4 linked regions of the Homo sapiens genome follow. Changing the gene in region 3 together with the main gene of any one other region gives a genetic interaction. Each region holds a gene or a part of one and is shown on either strand. Other genes may lie near its edges.

Region 1 (3,500 bases), on a different chromosome or scaffold from region 3:
CACTTTTCATTATAGCTTCTAGGTATAGGGTCTTGCTTTAGGAAAGCCTTTGTCATACACATATTATAAAAATAGAAAATTGTTTTAGAAAAAATATTTTTTATTTGTGGTAGGTGTTGATCCTATTATCTGGGAACAGGCCAAGGTAGATAACCCTGATTCTGAAAAGTAAGTATGTCTTCATCTTGTTTCATTTAAGAACTAATATTTGCTACTAGGAAAGCAAACATGGGAGCTATTAATTATAATTCTTACATATGAGACAAGTTTATTTTCATTTTCCTGGCCTTTAAAAAATATTGATTATTGTCCAGCTAAAGCTTCAGCCAAAACAAAAAGAAAAAAATAAGAAAAAAAAAGATTATGGTAAGGCAGCATAGCATAGTGAGAACTAACTAGGAGCGGAAAATTCTATTTGCGTTTTCATTTAATAATGTAATGTTTTGACTGAACTGTATTTCCTCATTTGTAAAATAGGGAGGTTGAATAAAATCTCTTTGGTATAACATGGTTATCTCATAGTCATAGATCTGCCTTAGAGCCCTAGAAAGTTGATGTAAAATTACATGAGTGTTACTAAAACCTTCACTTCTTGTATTTTGTAGTAATAGGCTTAAGGTCTGAAAATTGTTCACTGCGTTTCTTCAGGTTAATTCCTGTACCAATGGTGGGTTTTAAGGAACTTCTCCGAAGACTGAAGGTTCAAGATCAGATGACTAAGCAGCATCAAACCAGATTAGATGTAAGCATTTAGCTTTTTATTCCCTGGCCCTGGAAGTAGGGAAAGGGATTATAGACATTTAATTCTTTTTAGTATATGTGCTACTGTTTTATCTTAATCAGGAAACAATGTAGCATACACTGCAATTTAATAGTTTTATACAACTACCTTCTTTATGATAGAAGTCCCCAAATCACATGAATCTGATTTGATATAATAATGAATTTAGAATTCTTGTCTTAGTGGATTAATTAGACTGTCATTTCCAGTTTCAGCCAGGGATTGCATATTATTATTTATGGGGCCTTATGAAAATGAAGGTTATAGTAATGATTATTTTATGTTGACATATAATTGTCTTGGTATATTATTGTATGTTGATAAAATTAATGCTTAAATATACTTAATATTTTATTTCATAAAGTAGACTTTTTTAGGAGACCAGGGTGGGTGGATCACTTGAGATCAGGAGTTCAAGACAAGCCTGGCCGACTTGGCAAAACCTGGTCTGTACTAAAAAATTCAAAAATTAGCTGGGTGTCGTGGTGCACGCCTGTAATGCCAGCAACTTGGGAGGCTGAGGCATGAGAATTGTTTGAACCCGGGAGGCAGAGGTTGCAGTGAACAGAAATCGTGCCACTGCACTCCAGCCTGGGCGACAGAGTGAGACTCCTCAAAAAAAAAAAAAAAAAAAAAAAAAAAAAAAAAAACTTTCATAATTAAATACTTAAAGATTCTTAAAGGTCAGAGAAATTTCTATGATTTCAATTCTTTTAACTTTGCTAAGGTTTTTTTTTTTTTTTTTTTTTTTTTGAGACGTCTCTCGCTCTGTCGCCCAGGCTGGAGCACAGTGGCGCGATCTAGGCTCGCTGCAAGCTCCACCTCCTGAGTTCACGCCATTCTCCTTCCTCAGCCTCCGGAGTAGCTGGGACTACAGGCGCCTGCCACCACGCCCGGCTAATTTTTTGTATTTTTAGTAGAGACGGGGTTTCACCGTGTTAACCAGGATGGTCTCGATCTCCTGACCTCGTGATCCACCCATCTCGGCCTCCCGAAAGTGCTAGGGTTACAGGCGTGAGCCACTGCGCCCGGCCAACTTTGCTGAGGTTTTATAACCCAGGAGCCTATGAAAATAATGTGTATTCTGCAGTCCTTGGGTGAAGTTTTCTATTAATGTCAGTGAGATCCAGTTGGTTGATAGTATTGCTCAGTTCTGTATTCTTGTTGTTTTTTCTGTCTGCTAGTTTGAGAAGAGATTTGAAATCTACAGCAACACTTACGGATTTGTGTTTTTCTCCTTTCATTTCTCAGTTTTTGCTTCATGTATTAATAGTTTGAAGGGCTGTTGTTATATAGGATTGTTGTGTTTTCTTGGCAAATTTACCTTTTATTATTATATCATATCCCTCTTAATCCTCGGTAAGTTTTAAATCTTCTCTAATGGCCTTTTCTTTTATTGTTTTTAATCGATACATAACTACATATTTATGGGGCATAGTGTGATAATTCAATACATGGATATAGTGTGTAATGATCAAATAAAGTAATTAGCATATCCATTACCCCATACATTTATCATTTGTTGGTATCATGGGAAATTCACTCCTATAGCTATTTGAAACACAATAAATGGTTGTGAATTATAGTTACCTATAGTGCTATAGAACACTGGAACTTAATCCTCCTATCCAGCTGTACTTTTGTATCTGTTAAGCAACCTTTGGCAGTTCCCTACTCCTACTCTTTCTCCACCTCTAGTAGCCACTATTCTACTCTTTTCTTCTACTAAATCAACTTTTTTTAGCTTCCACATATGAGTGAGAACATGCAGAATTTATCTTTCTGCACGTGGCTTATTTCACTTAACAAAATGTCTTCCAAGTTCATCTATGTTGCTGCAAATGGTAGCACTTCATTCTTTTTCATGATTAAATAGTATTCTATTGTGTGTGTATATATGTGTACACATACACACCATGTTTTCTTTATCCATTCATCTGTTCATGGACACTTACTCAAGACACTCAGAAGTCTTTGTCTGGTGTTAACATAGCCACGCTACCTTTCTTTTGATAAAAAGTGTTTGTATGGCATACCTTTGTCCATCTTTTTGCTTTTAACCTACCTATATTGTTATATTTGAAGCGAGATTCTTGTAGACAGCAAAAAGTTTGGATTTAGTCCTACCATTTATTTGTTTTGTGTTTGTAGCCTCTGTTTTTCATTCCTGTTTCTACTTTTCTGCTTTCTTTTGAGTTATTTGGACTTTTTTTTTTTTTTCAGCATTTCCTTTTAATCTATTATTTCAAGTCTTAGAGCAGTACTTCTTAGTAGTGGCTTGTGGTGGTGGTGGTGATTTTGTCTCCCAGAGCACATTTGGCAATGTCTGGAGACTCTTGGTTGGGGAGTACTACAGGCGTCTAATGTGTAGAGGCCCAGATGCTGCACACATTCTGCAGTGTACAGAACAGTACTCCCACAACAAGGAATTACCCAAGATTAATAGTGCTGAAGTTGAGAAACCTTTCTCTAGGTAATACGATGTATCTCCTCCCACTATAACTAGCAGACTTCCCTTGGAGCTCCCTTTCAGCATTTATGCTCATTTCCAGGTTTGAGGCTGGGTTGAAACCAGACTAGGGACGCCTGAGGGGAAAAATGGGTAAACTCACCACAAGTTTATTGGTACTTTAAATTCCTATCTTACCTGATCTTCCTGCCAGAGTTCCCAAATAGCTGCCCCGTGTATTCCATCCAAGTTTTATAGCTATATTAAATG
Region 2 (3,500 bases), on a different chromosome or scaffold from region 3:
CTGCTTTATCCCTTGGCTCTGAGAGCAAAGCTCAGGAATCATTTCAGGTGAAACCTGTCCCCATTTCTTCCTTAGGTCTCCATTTTGTCAGCAATGGAGCTCATCTGGAACCTGTGTGAGATTCTTTTTATTGAAGTGGCCCCAGGTAGGCATGGAATATCTCACCATAATCTCATAGGTGTCCCCTTCCATCTTCTGCTCTTTCCTCATCTTTCCTGTGCATGGTGATGAGTGTTTTATTCCTGAGAATGTTCTTTCCATCATTATAACCACGGGAAGTCGTTAGAAAACACCCAAAGAAACCTGACCGTTTTGTCAGGTGCTGCAAAAAGAATCATGCAGAGTGCCTCCAAGAAACCTAAACCCTGACAAGTACTGAGAAATATTAAACTAGTGTGTGAAAGGGGGTGTCAGTGTTAACATCATGGACTGGCCAAGCTTAAGAAAGTTTTATGAATGTGGGGTAGGATTAGGTGGTGAGAGGCAAAGTCACATTGGGAATTCTGTCATGAATCATTGGGACAGGGCAACTCTGTGTGTTAACTCTGCCAATGGGTATGAACTCTGCCAATGGGAATTTTTCTGTTGATCTTTTTTTTTTTTTGAGACAGAGTTTCACTCTTGTTGCCCAGGCTGGAGTGCAATGGCGTGATCTCAGCTCACCGCAACCTCCACCTCCTGGGTTCAAGCGATTCTCCTGCCTCAACCTCCTGAGTAGCTGGGATTACAGACATGCGCTGCCACGCCTGGCTAATTTTGTATTTTTAGTGGAGATGAGGTTTCTCCATGTTGGTCAGGCTGGTCTCGAACTCCCAACCTCAGGTAATCTGCCTGCCTCGGTCTCCCAAAGTGCAGGGATTCCAGGTGTGAGCCACCGTGCCCAGCCTTCTGTTGATCTTGAATTAAACTGTGGTCAGTATAGTGTCATGGCCTGTATGAGCTCTCTGTGGATCTGCTGCAGCTTTTTTGCATTTCTTTTAAGGATTTATGTTTGCTATTTTCCATAAATGAGTAGTAACCTCTGTGTAGCCCTAGCATTTTATTCATACTCTCACTAAAGAAGTGAGGAACTTGAAATTAGAGTTGGTTGTTCAGAGGCCTCCCTTCTCCAGTGGATTTTTGAGGAGGTTACAGTTGGCTCTTTGTATCTGCAGGTTCTACATCATGGATACGGAGTGCTGGCTGTACTCTGCCATTTTATTTCATTTTATTTTTATTGATTGATTGAGACAAGTTCTCACTCTGTCACTTAGGCTGGAGTGTGGTGGTACAATCACAGCTATTGCAGTCTGGACCTCCCAGGCTCAAGCGATCCTCCTGTCTCAGCCTCCTGAGTAGCTGGGACTACAGGCACGTGCCACCATGCTAGGCTAATTTTTTGTGTGTATATGCTGGGGGAGGGGAGACAGGGTCTTGCTCTGTCACCCATGCTGGAGTACAGTGGCGTGATCACAGCTCAGAAGCCTCGACTTCCTGGGCTCAAGCAATCCTCCTGCCCAGCCTCCCAAGTAGCTGGGACCACAGGCCTGCACCACCACGCCCGGCTAATTTTTGTATTTTTTGTGGAGAGGAAATTTCGCTATGTTGCCCGGGCTGTTCTTGAACTCTTGGGCTCAAGCAGTCTGCCCATCTTGGCCTCGCAAAATGCTGGGATTATAGGCGTGAGCCACCATTCCTGGCTCGGCTAATTTTTTATTTTTTTTTGTAGAGATGGGGTCTCCCTATGTTGCCCAGCCTAGTGTCAAACTCCTGGGCTCAAGCGATCTGCCTGCCTCAGCCTCCCAAAGTGCTGGGATTACAGACATGAACTACCATGCCCGGCCATATGTTTTGTTTTGTTTTGTTTTTTGAGACAGAGTCTCACTCCGTCACCCAGGCTGGAGTGCAGTTGTGCGATCTTGGCTCACTGCAACCTCTGCCTCCTGGGTTCAAGCAATTCTGCCTTAGCCACCTGAGTAGCTGGAATTACAGGCATGCGCCACCACGCCCGGCTAATTTTTGTATTTTTAGTAGAGACAGGGTTTCACCATGTTGTCCAGGCTGGTCTTGAACTCCTGAGCTTAGATGATCCACCTGCCTTAGCCTCCGAAAGTGCTGGGATTCCAGGTGTGCACCACCAGCCCCCTGGCCCTATGTTTTTATCATCATTGCATACCTGGCTGCTTGCTATCTAGTCATTGTTGGTTCCTAAACGGCCATTACTTATGTAGCTATTAAGTATTTGTGAAGAATCTGGAGTGTGGGGTAGTGAGGTCTGCATTCCATGTTCACCCCTTTCTGGGGTCAGTTAAAGATGGAGCTGCCTGGCACAGAAGTAATATTTGGTGAAAGTGCATTTGCTTTTTCCTAGCACAGTCTGTCATTCAGGACCATGTGTGTGACTGCTTAAAAGGGATAAACCTATGTAGTCAGCTTGTCTGCCTTAAAGTTCTCTGTTCCTTGGATAAAGGAACTTGCTGCAGATGAAGCTGAGGCTTTTGTGTGTGATGAGAGTCTCTCCTCCCAGCTGGCCCTCTCCTCCTCCATCTCCTTGACTGGGTCCGGCTCCATGTGTGCGAGGTGGACAGTTTGTCGGCAGATGTTCTGGGCAGTGAGAATCCAAGCAAACATGACAGCTTCTGGAACTTGGTAAGACAGGCCGGGCCCCCACCTCCCACCATGTGTCCTACTGTCCCTGGTGCTGCCGGGTGGGTCTGAGGACACCCACTGAGCCTCCAGCAGTAGGCTGGCTTTTGGAGTCTGTTACTATGGAGACTCTTTTGGATCTTTTCTTCCCTGCTCTATGGGAGAGTCTAAAACCGAGGTACCATGTAAGAAAAATAATGCTTTGAAGACTTTTCCAGGGTAAAAGGAAATTTGATTTCTTTGTGGATCTAAGGAAGAGAAGACACAAAAAGGAATACAAAACCGTTTTTTTTTTTTTTTTTTTGAGACAGGGTCTCGGCTGGGTGCGGTGGCTCATGCCTGTAATTCCAGCCAGCACTTTGGGAGGCCAAGTCAGGAATCTCTTGAGCCCAGGAGTTTGAGATTAGCCTGGGCAACAAAGTGAGACCCTCCATCTCAAAACAAATTAATAAATAAAAATATAAAAGAGAAAAGATAGTCCGACTCTGTTCCCCAGGCTGTTGTGCAGTGGCCTGATCTTGCTCACTGCAACCTCCGCCTCCTGTGCGGTCCTACCACCTCAGCCTCTCAAGTAGCTGGGACCACAAGTGCCAACCACCATGCCTGGGTAATGATATAAAACCAATTGACAGGGGCTGGGGTGCATACAGGGTTGGATGTAAATGAGCTTGCACATTACTTTGGATCATCAGTTTCGAAGTCAGCATGTCGTATATGTGTATATGGATGTATTTTCTATGTGTTAGGTATTTCCATTCACCTCTGCTGACTGACCCAATTGGGAGGTGGCAGGGAGGAGATCGCTAGTTGACTGGGCTAATGGAAAGTCAACTAAACTTATAAAGCCTGAAATTGGGAACAGATTGTGAGGACAA
Region 3 (3,500 bases):
TTGGGATGTTAGACAAGGTACTATGCCTGTATCTCTGCTGAAGGCTCATGAAGCTGAAAGTAAGTATTGTGAAGATACAGAAAGTTTATATTGGGTGAGTTATATGACATATAATAAGCACCTTTCCATAATGATACATGTGGATCATTTTACATCATAGCTTTTAATGGCTGAATTGTGTAAATTTAAATAGTTATGTAATTTCTTTTTACTCGACATTTAAGTTCTTTAACATTTGTTTTTGTTTTTTTGGAGACGGAGATTCACCCTTGTTGCCCAGGCTGGAGTGCAATGGCGCTATCTTGGCCCACCGCAACCTCTGCCTCCTGGGTTCAAGCGATTCTCCTGCCTCAGCCTCCCGAGTAGCTGGGATTACAGGCATGCACCACCACACCTGGCTAATTTTATATTTTTAGTAGAGACTGGGTTTCTCCATGTTGGTCAGGCTGGTCTTGAACTCCTGACCTGAGGTGATCTGCCCAGCTCGGCCTCCTAAAGTGCTGGGATTACAGGCATGAGCCGCCGTGCCTGGTTTTTTTTTTTTTTTTTTTTTTAAAGAGACAGGGTCTGGTTCTGTCGCCCAGGCTGGAGTGCAGTGGTGCAGTCACGGCTCACTACAGCCTTGACTTCCAGGGCTCAGGTGATCCTCCCGCATCAGCCTCCCAAGTAGATAGGACTATAGGTGTGTGTCACCATGCCTAGCTGATTTTTTGTTGTTGTTTGTTTTTTTTTTTGTAGATATGGGGTTTCACTTTATTGCCCAGGCTGGTCTCAAACTCCTGGGCTCAAGTGATCCTCAGGAAGTGCTGAGATTACAGGTATGAGTTATGAGCCACCACATCAACCACAGGTTTAATTCTTATATCCAAAACTGTAGTTAGAATCCTTAGATATTTATCTCTGTGTGTGTTTTTTTTTTTTTTTTTTTTTTGGAGACAGGGTCTCTCTCTGTTGCCTAGGCCAGAGTGCAGTAGTGGTGTGATCATAGCTCATTGCAGCCTTGAACTCCTGGACTTACACGATTCTCCCAAAGTGCTGGGCATAGCCATTATGCCCATGCCCAGCCTTATGTACTTATTTTCTTAGGATAATTTTTTAGAAGTAGAATTGCTAGGCCAAACATTTTGCATAGCGCATTGACAGATTTTTCTACACAAAAATAATACCAGTTTAAGCCAGGCACATTGGCACATGCCTGTAGTTCCAGGCTCCTCCTACTCAGGAGCCTGAGGCAGGAAGATTGCTTGAGCCTGAGAGTTTGAGGCCAGCTTAGGCAACATAACCTCTTTAAAAAGTTAATAATACTAGTTTAATCCAGGTGAGTGGCATGCACCAGCTTCTCAGGAGGCCGAGGCAGGAGGATTGCTTGAGTCCAGGAATTCAAGGCTGTAGTGCATTATGATTGCACCTATGCACTCCAGCCTGGACAATATAGTGAGACCCCACTCCCTGAAAAGTGATAAAAATCATACCATTTTATATGCCATAGTGAAGTGTGCAAGAATGCCCTTTTCCCATGCAAATGCAGGCTGTCATATTTGTTAATAAATGTTGTGCTCCTCAATTTATTGTTGCATCACATCATTTTTTTTAACATGAACAATAGATTTATAAGCTTTTTTTTTTCTTTTGATTCTGGTGGAGATGATTTAGCCGGACAGAAATTTTTCATTTTCTCACTCTGTCTTTGATATCATGCCAGAATGGATTATCCTTTTTTTTTTTTTTTTTTGAGACAGAGTCTTGTTCTGTCGCCCAGGCTGGAGTGCAGTGGCACAATCGCGGTTCACTGAAACCTCTGCCTCCTGGGTTCAAGCCATTCTTCTGCCTCAGCCTCCCTAGTAGCTGGGACTAAAGGCATTTGCCACCATGCCTAGCTAATTTTTGTATTTTTAGTAGGAATGGGGTTTCACCATGTTGGCCAGGCTGGTCTCAAACTCCTGACCTCAGGTTATCTGCCTGCCTTGGCATCCCAAAGTGCTGGGATTACAGGTGTGAGCCACTGCGCCCGGCCCTATATATTTTTTTAAAAATGGGGTCTCTCTCACCCAGGTTGGAATGCAGTGGCATGATCACAGCCCACTGCAGCCTCAGCCTTGCCTCCCTGGCTCAATCAGTCCTCCCACCTCAGCCTCCCGAGTAGCTGAGGCTACAGGCACGCACCCCTACTACACCCGGCTAATTTTTTATTTTTTGTAGAGACAGGGTCTCAATATGTTGCCCAGGCTGGAGTGCAGTGGCATGGTACCTCACTTAAGCCTCAACCTCCTGGGGTCAAGTGATCCTCTTGCCTTGCCCTTCTGAGTAGCTGGGACTACAGGTATATGCCACTACACCTAGCTAATTTTTTTTATTATTAGATTTCTATAGAAATTATGATTCCATAAAAGATTTTGAGGAAATGATGGCCGGGGGCGGTGGCTTATGCTTGTAATCCCAGCACTTTGGGAGGCCGAGGCAGGTGGATCACCTGAGGTCAGGAGTTCGAGACCAGCCTGACCAACATGGAGAAAGCCCGTCGCTACTAAAAATACAAAATTAGCCGGGCGTGGTGGCACATGCCTGTAATCCCAGCTACTAGGGAGGCAGAGGCAGGACAGTCACTTGAACCTGGGAGGCAGAGGTTGTGGTGAGCCAAGATCGCACCATTGCACTCCAGCCTGGGCAACAAGAGTGAAACTCCGTCTCAAAAAAAAAACAAAACAAAACAGATTTTGAGGAAATGAGGAAGACTGGTATCTTTCAGAATTGAAAGTGATTTTGGAATATATAGAATTTCTTTGGGGCTGGGCACGGTAGTTCATGCCTGTAATTTTAGCACTTTGGGAGTCCAAGGCAAACAGATCTCTTGAGCCCAGTTGTTTGAGACCAGCCTGGGCAACATGGAGAAACCCCATGTCTGTTAAAAATACAAAAGTTAGCCAGGTATGGTGATACATACCTGTAGTCCTAGCTACTCAGGAGGCTGAGATAGGCGGATTGCTTAAGCCTTGGAGGTCAAGGCTGCAGTGAGCCATGACCATGCCATTCTGCACTCCAGCCTGGGCGCCAGAGCAAGACCCTGTTTCAAAAAGAGAGAGAGAATTTCTTTGAGTTGAATTATGTAGAAGTTTGTCACTGACCTATGTTCCTAAAGTATGAAGCATACATATGTGGGCTAAGAAATAGTTTTTCTTGATAAATAATCAACAAATAAAAAATAAAAAGCCCTCCATCTGAGACTGGATCCAAATTCTTGGAACATTTCCAAATTTTGGTTTGGTAGAAGTCAGTTGCTATTTCTGTGATAAAGACCAGAAGTATTCAGAATCTTGGCATTAACCAATATTGGATATTGCCTCTTAGAAATTCATTTTTATATTTCATTAGGATCTTTCTCAGTTTTTCCAATAATATAATCTTCATATATTAATGACACAGGAATTGAAAAATAAGACAACTTACCAATTTAAAAAAAAACTTTTCCGTAAAAGACAGTCATTCCTAGCTGGGCACACACC
Region 4 (3,500 bases), on a different chromosome or scaffold from region 3:
CAATACTCTTATAATTTCCTATGCCTGTCTTTAATCTCTTAATCCCGTCATCTTCATAAACTGACAATGTATGTCATCTCAGGACCCTGTGATCACTGCATTAACTGTACAAATTGTTTGTAAAACGTGTGTTTGAACAATATGAAATCAGGGCACCCTGAGAAAGAACAGAACAACAGCGATTTTCAGGGAACAAGGAAAGATACCATAAGGTCTGACTGCCTGGGGGGTCAGGCAGAATAGAGCCATAGTTTTCTTCTTGCAGGGAGCCTATAAACGACATGTGAGTAGGAGAAATATCACTGAATTCTTTTCCCAGCAAGGAATATTAATAATTGATAACCCTGGGGAAGGAATGCATTCCCAGGGGTAGGCCTATAGACGACTGCTCTGGGATTATCTGTCTTATGCGGTTGAGATAAGGGATGAAATATGCCCTGGTCTCCTGCAGTGCCCTCAGGCTTACTAGGATTGGGAAATTCCAGCCTGGTGAATTCTAGTCAGACTGGTTTTCTGCTCTCAAACCCTGTTTCCTGTTAAGATGTTTATCAAGACAATGTGTGCCCAGTGGGACATGGACCCTCATCAGTAATTCTAATTTTGCCCTTGCCTTGTGATCCTGCTCTGCCCTTTTGCCTTGTGATCTTTTATTGCCCTTTGAAGCATGTGATCTCTGTGATCCACTCCCTATTCGTACCCCCCTCCCCTTCTAAAATCCCTAATAAAAACTTGCTGGTTTTGCGGCTCAAGTCGCCATCATGGTCCTACCAATACGTGATGGCACCCACAGAGGCCCAGCTGTAAAATTCTTCTCTTTGTAGTCTTTCTCTTTATTTATGAGACCAGCTGACACTTAGGGAAAATAGAAAAGAACCTACATTGAAATATTGGGGGCTGGTTCCCCCGATAACATGTATAGCCTGCAACCTGAGCAGGGCCTTCAGCCTGGTCCAGCAAATCATTTCGGTATTCTTTTTTTTTTTTTTTTTTGAGACAGAGTCTTGCTCTGTCATACAGGCTGGAGTGCAGTGGCGTGATTTCGGCTCACTGCATCTCCGCCTCCTGGGTTCAAGCGATTATCTTGCCTCAGCTTCCCAAGTAGCTGGGATTACAGGTGCCCGCCACCACGCTTGGCTAATTTTTGTATTTTTAGTAGAGACATGGTTTCACCATGTTGGCCAGGCTGGTCTGGAACACCTGACCTCGTGATCCACCTGCCTCGGCCTCCCAAAATGCTGGGATTACAGGCATGAGCCACCGTGCCCAGCCTCATTTCTGTATTCTTGGTCCCCTTCATTGTCTCTTCCCAAAGAACCACTATTCCTAACTTTCATCATTATCCTCAAGCCCCTTCACTCTACTGCTTCCTTGCCTCCCACCTGGTTTATCTGCTTCCTTCCTGTTAGGAACAATTGAGGTTATCAGACATGAACTCTCTCAACTCTCTCCACCCAAGCCTAAAAACATACATATTTCAAACACCCACCCTTAGTTCTTTGCTTCTAATCTAAGTACTCTGTGATCCTCATTAATCACTTCCTGTCCCTTAGTTGGTTATTCCTTATTTCCAACCTTCCCTTTATACTAGCCCCATCCCCATATATTATGAGTTGCTCAAGGCTATTCCATCTGTTTTTTTCTTTTGAGGCAGTATCTCAAAAGTGTAGTGATGTGCAGTGGTGCGATCTCGGCTCACTGCAGCCTCAAGCCCCCAGGCTCAAGCTATCCTCCGACCGCAGCCTCCCAAAGTGCTGGGATTACAGGCATGTGCCCCCACACCTGTCCTAGCTCATCTTAAGGGGGGAAAAATCCAACATAAAATAAAACTTTCCCCTTTGATCTCTTATTGGCTGTTCCTCCTCCTACTTAAGTGCTGATTTTCCTTAGGCCTGCATCTTTAGCCTTCTTCCCTTCTCACTGTACGCGGCCTGATTGGGCAAACTCACCCTCTCCCATGCACTTCAACTACCACCCAAGCCAGAAGCCAGCAAATCTGTATTTCTGGCCCCTCTGAGCTATTGAGTTGACAATCTCGTATGTTAAACTGACTAACTGAATAGCATTCTCTACCTTTATGTCTCAAAGATACCTTACACTCAATAGGTCTAAAGCTGAACTCATCTTCCCAAGTCTGTCTCCACTTTGGCTCTCTCAAGGACTGACACTATCTCCTCAGTGAAGAAGGCTAAGAGTTTCACCTTATTAAAAGAAACCTAGGGCCAGGCGCAGTGGCTCATGCCTGTAATCCCAGCACTTTGGGAGGCTGAGGTGGGTGGATCACCTGAGGTTGGGAGTTTGAGACCAGCCTGACCAACATGGAGAAACCCCATCTCTACTAAAAATACAAAATTAGCTGGGTGTGGTGGTGCATGCCTGTAATCCCAGCTACTTGGGAGGCTGAGGCAGAATTGTTTGAACCCAGGAGGTGGAGGTTGCGGTGAGCCGAGATCGCACCATTGCACTCCAGCCTGGGAAACAAGAGCGAAACTCCACGTCAAAAAAAAAAAAAAAAAAAAAAAAAAAAAAAAGAGGCTGGATGTGGTGGCTCATGCCTGTAATCCCAGCACTTTGGGAGGCCGAGGCGGGTGGATCACCTGAGGTCGGGAGTTCAAGACTAGCCTGACCAACATGGAGAAACCCTGTCTCTACTAAAAATACAAAATTAGCTGGGTGTAGTGGTGCATGCCTGTAATCCCAGCTACTCAGGAGGCTGAGGCAGGAGAATCGCTTGAGGCGGAGGTTGCAGTGAGCTGAGATCGCACCACTGCACTCCAGCCTGGGCAACAAGAGCGAAACTCTGTCTCAAAAAAAAAAAAAAGAAACCTAGGAGTCACCTTAGCTCCATCTCACTTAACTTCCTTAAGTTCTTCTATCAGTTGCTGTCTATCCTTCTATCCCAATTGCTACTGCCTTAGTTCAGTTCCTGAGTAGCTCTTGCTTAGGTTACTCAACCTCTTCCTATCCTCTTTCTCTGCCTCCAGACTTTTTTTCTTTTTTGAAAGAGGGTCTCACTTTGTCACCCAGACTGGAGTGCAGTGGTGCAATCACAGCTCCCGGCAGCCTCAACCTCCCAGGCTCAAGTGACTTTCCCACCTCAGCCTCCCAAATAGCTGGGACTATAGGGTACATCACCACACCCTGCTAATTTTTGTATTTTTTCTAGAGACAAGGTTTTGTCATGTTGCCCGGGCTGGTCTTTAACTCCTGGGCTCAAGCGACCCACCCACCTGGGCTCCCAAAGTGCTGGGATTACAGGCATGAATGCAGCTGCCTCCAGTCTTGTTCAATCTAGCCTCAATATGGTTACCTGATTTAGGCATATAACAATCCTGCTTAGAACACTTCAATGGATACATAAGAAACTTCATAGTGATCGTCTCTGAGAACTAGGGGATCTAGGATAGGAGAAATATTTGTCTTTCCCTTTGGTACTATTTGAATTCTTTACTATTAGCATGCATTACTATACAAAACTAAAGTTTCAGTGACCTCCAGTGCCT

What was found. A genetic interaction does not mean that the proteins touch.
Region 1: changes in NUP43 (region 3) and NUP54 together harm fitness more than expected from each alone (negative genetic interaction), as found in Homo sapiens cells (one large-scale study listed by BioGRID).
Region 2: changes in NUP43 (region 3) and NUP85 together harm fitness more than expected from each alone (negative genetic interaction), as found in Homo sapiens cells (one large-scale study listed by BioGRID).
Region 4: changes in NUP43 (region 3) and TIMELESS together harm fitness more than expected from each alone (negative genetic interaction), as found in Homo sapiens cells (one large-scale study listed by BioGRID).

The regions. Positions count from the first base shown.
Region 1 is NC_000004.12:76,127,898-76,131,397, reverse strand, and holds part of NUP54 (nucleoporin p54), read left to right. Parts: intron 1-113; coding exon 114-168; intron 169-648; coding exon 649-742; intron 743-3,500. UniProt on the Homo sapiens protein: Component of the nuclear pore complex, a complex required for the trafficking across the nuclear membrane.
Region 2 is NC_000017.11:75,215,679-75,219,178, forward strand, and holds part of NUP85 (nuclear pore complex protein Nup85), read left to right. Parts: intron 1-75; coding exon 76-145; intron 146-2,506; coding exon 2,507-2,628; intron 2,629-3,500. UniProt on the Homo sapiens protein: Essential component of the nuclear pore complex (NPC) that seems to be required for NPC assembly and maintenance. As part of the NPC Nup107-160 subcomplex plays a role in RNA export and in tethering NUP96/Nup98 and NUP153 to the nucleus.
Region 3 is NC_000006.12:149,733,030-149,736,529, reverse strand, and holds part of NUP43 (nucleoporin Nup43), read left to right. Parts: coding exon 1-59; intron 60-3,500. UniProt on the Homo sapiens protein: Component of the Nup107-160 subcomplex of the nuclear pore complex (NPC). The Nup107-160 subcomplex is required for the assembly of a functional NPC.
Region 4 is NC_000012.12:56,442,927-56,446,426, forward strand, and holds part of TIMELESS (protein timeless homolog), read right to left. Parts: intron 1-3,500. UniProt on the Homo sapiens protein: Plays an important role in the control of DNA replication, maintenance of replication fork stability, maintenance of genome stability throughout normal DNA replication, DNA repair and in the regulation of the circadian clock.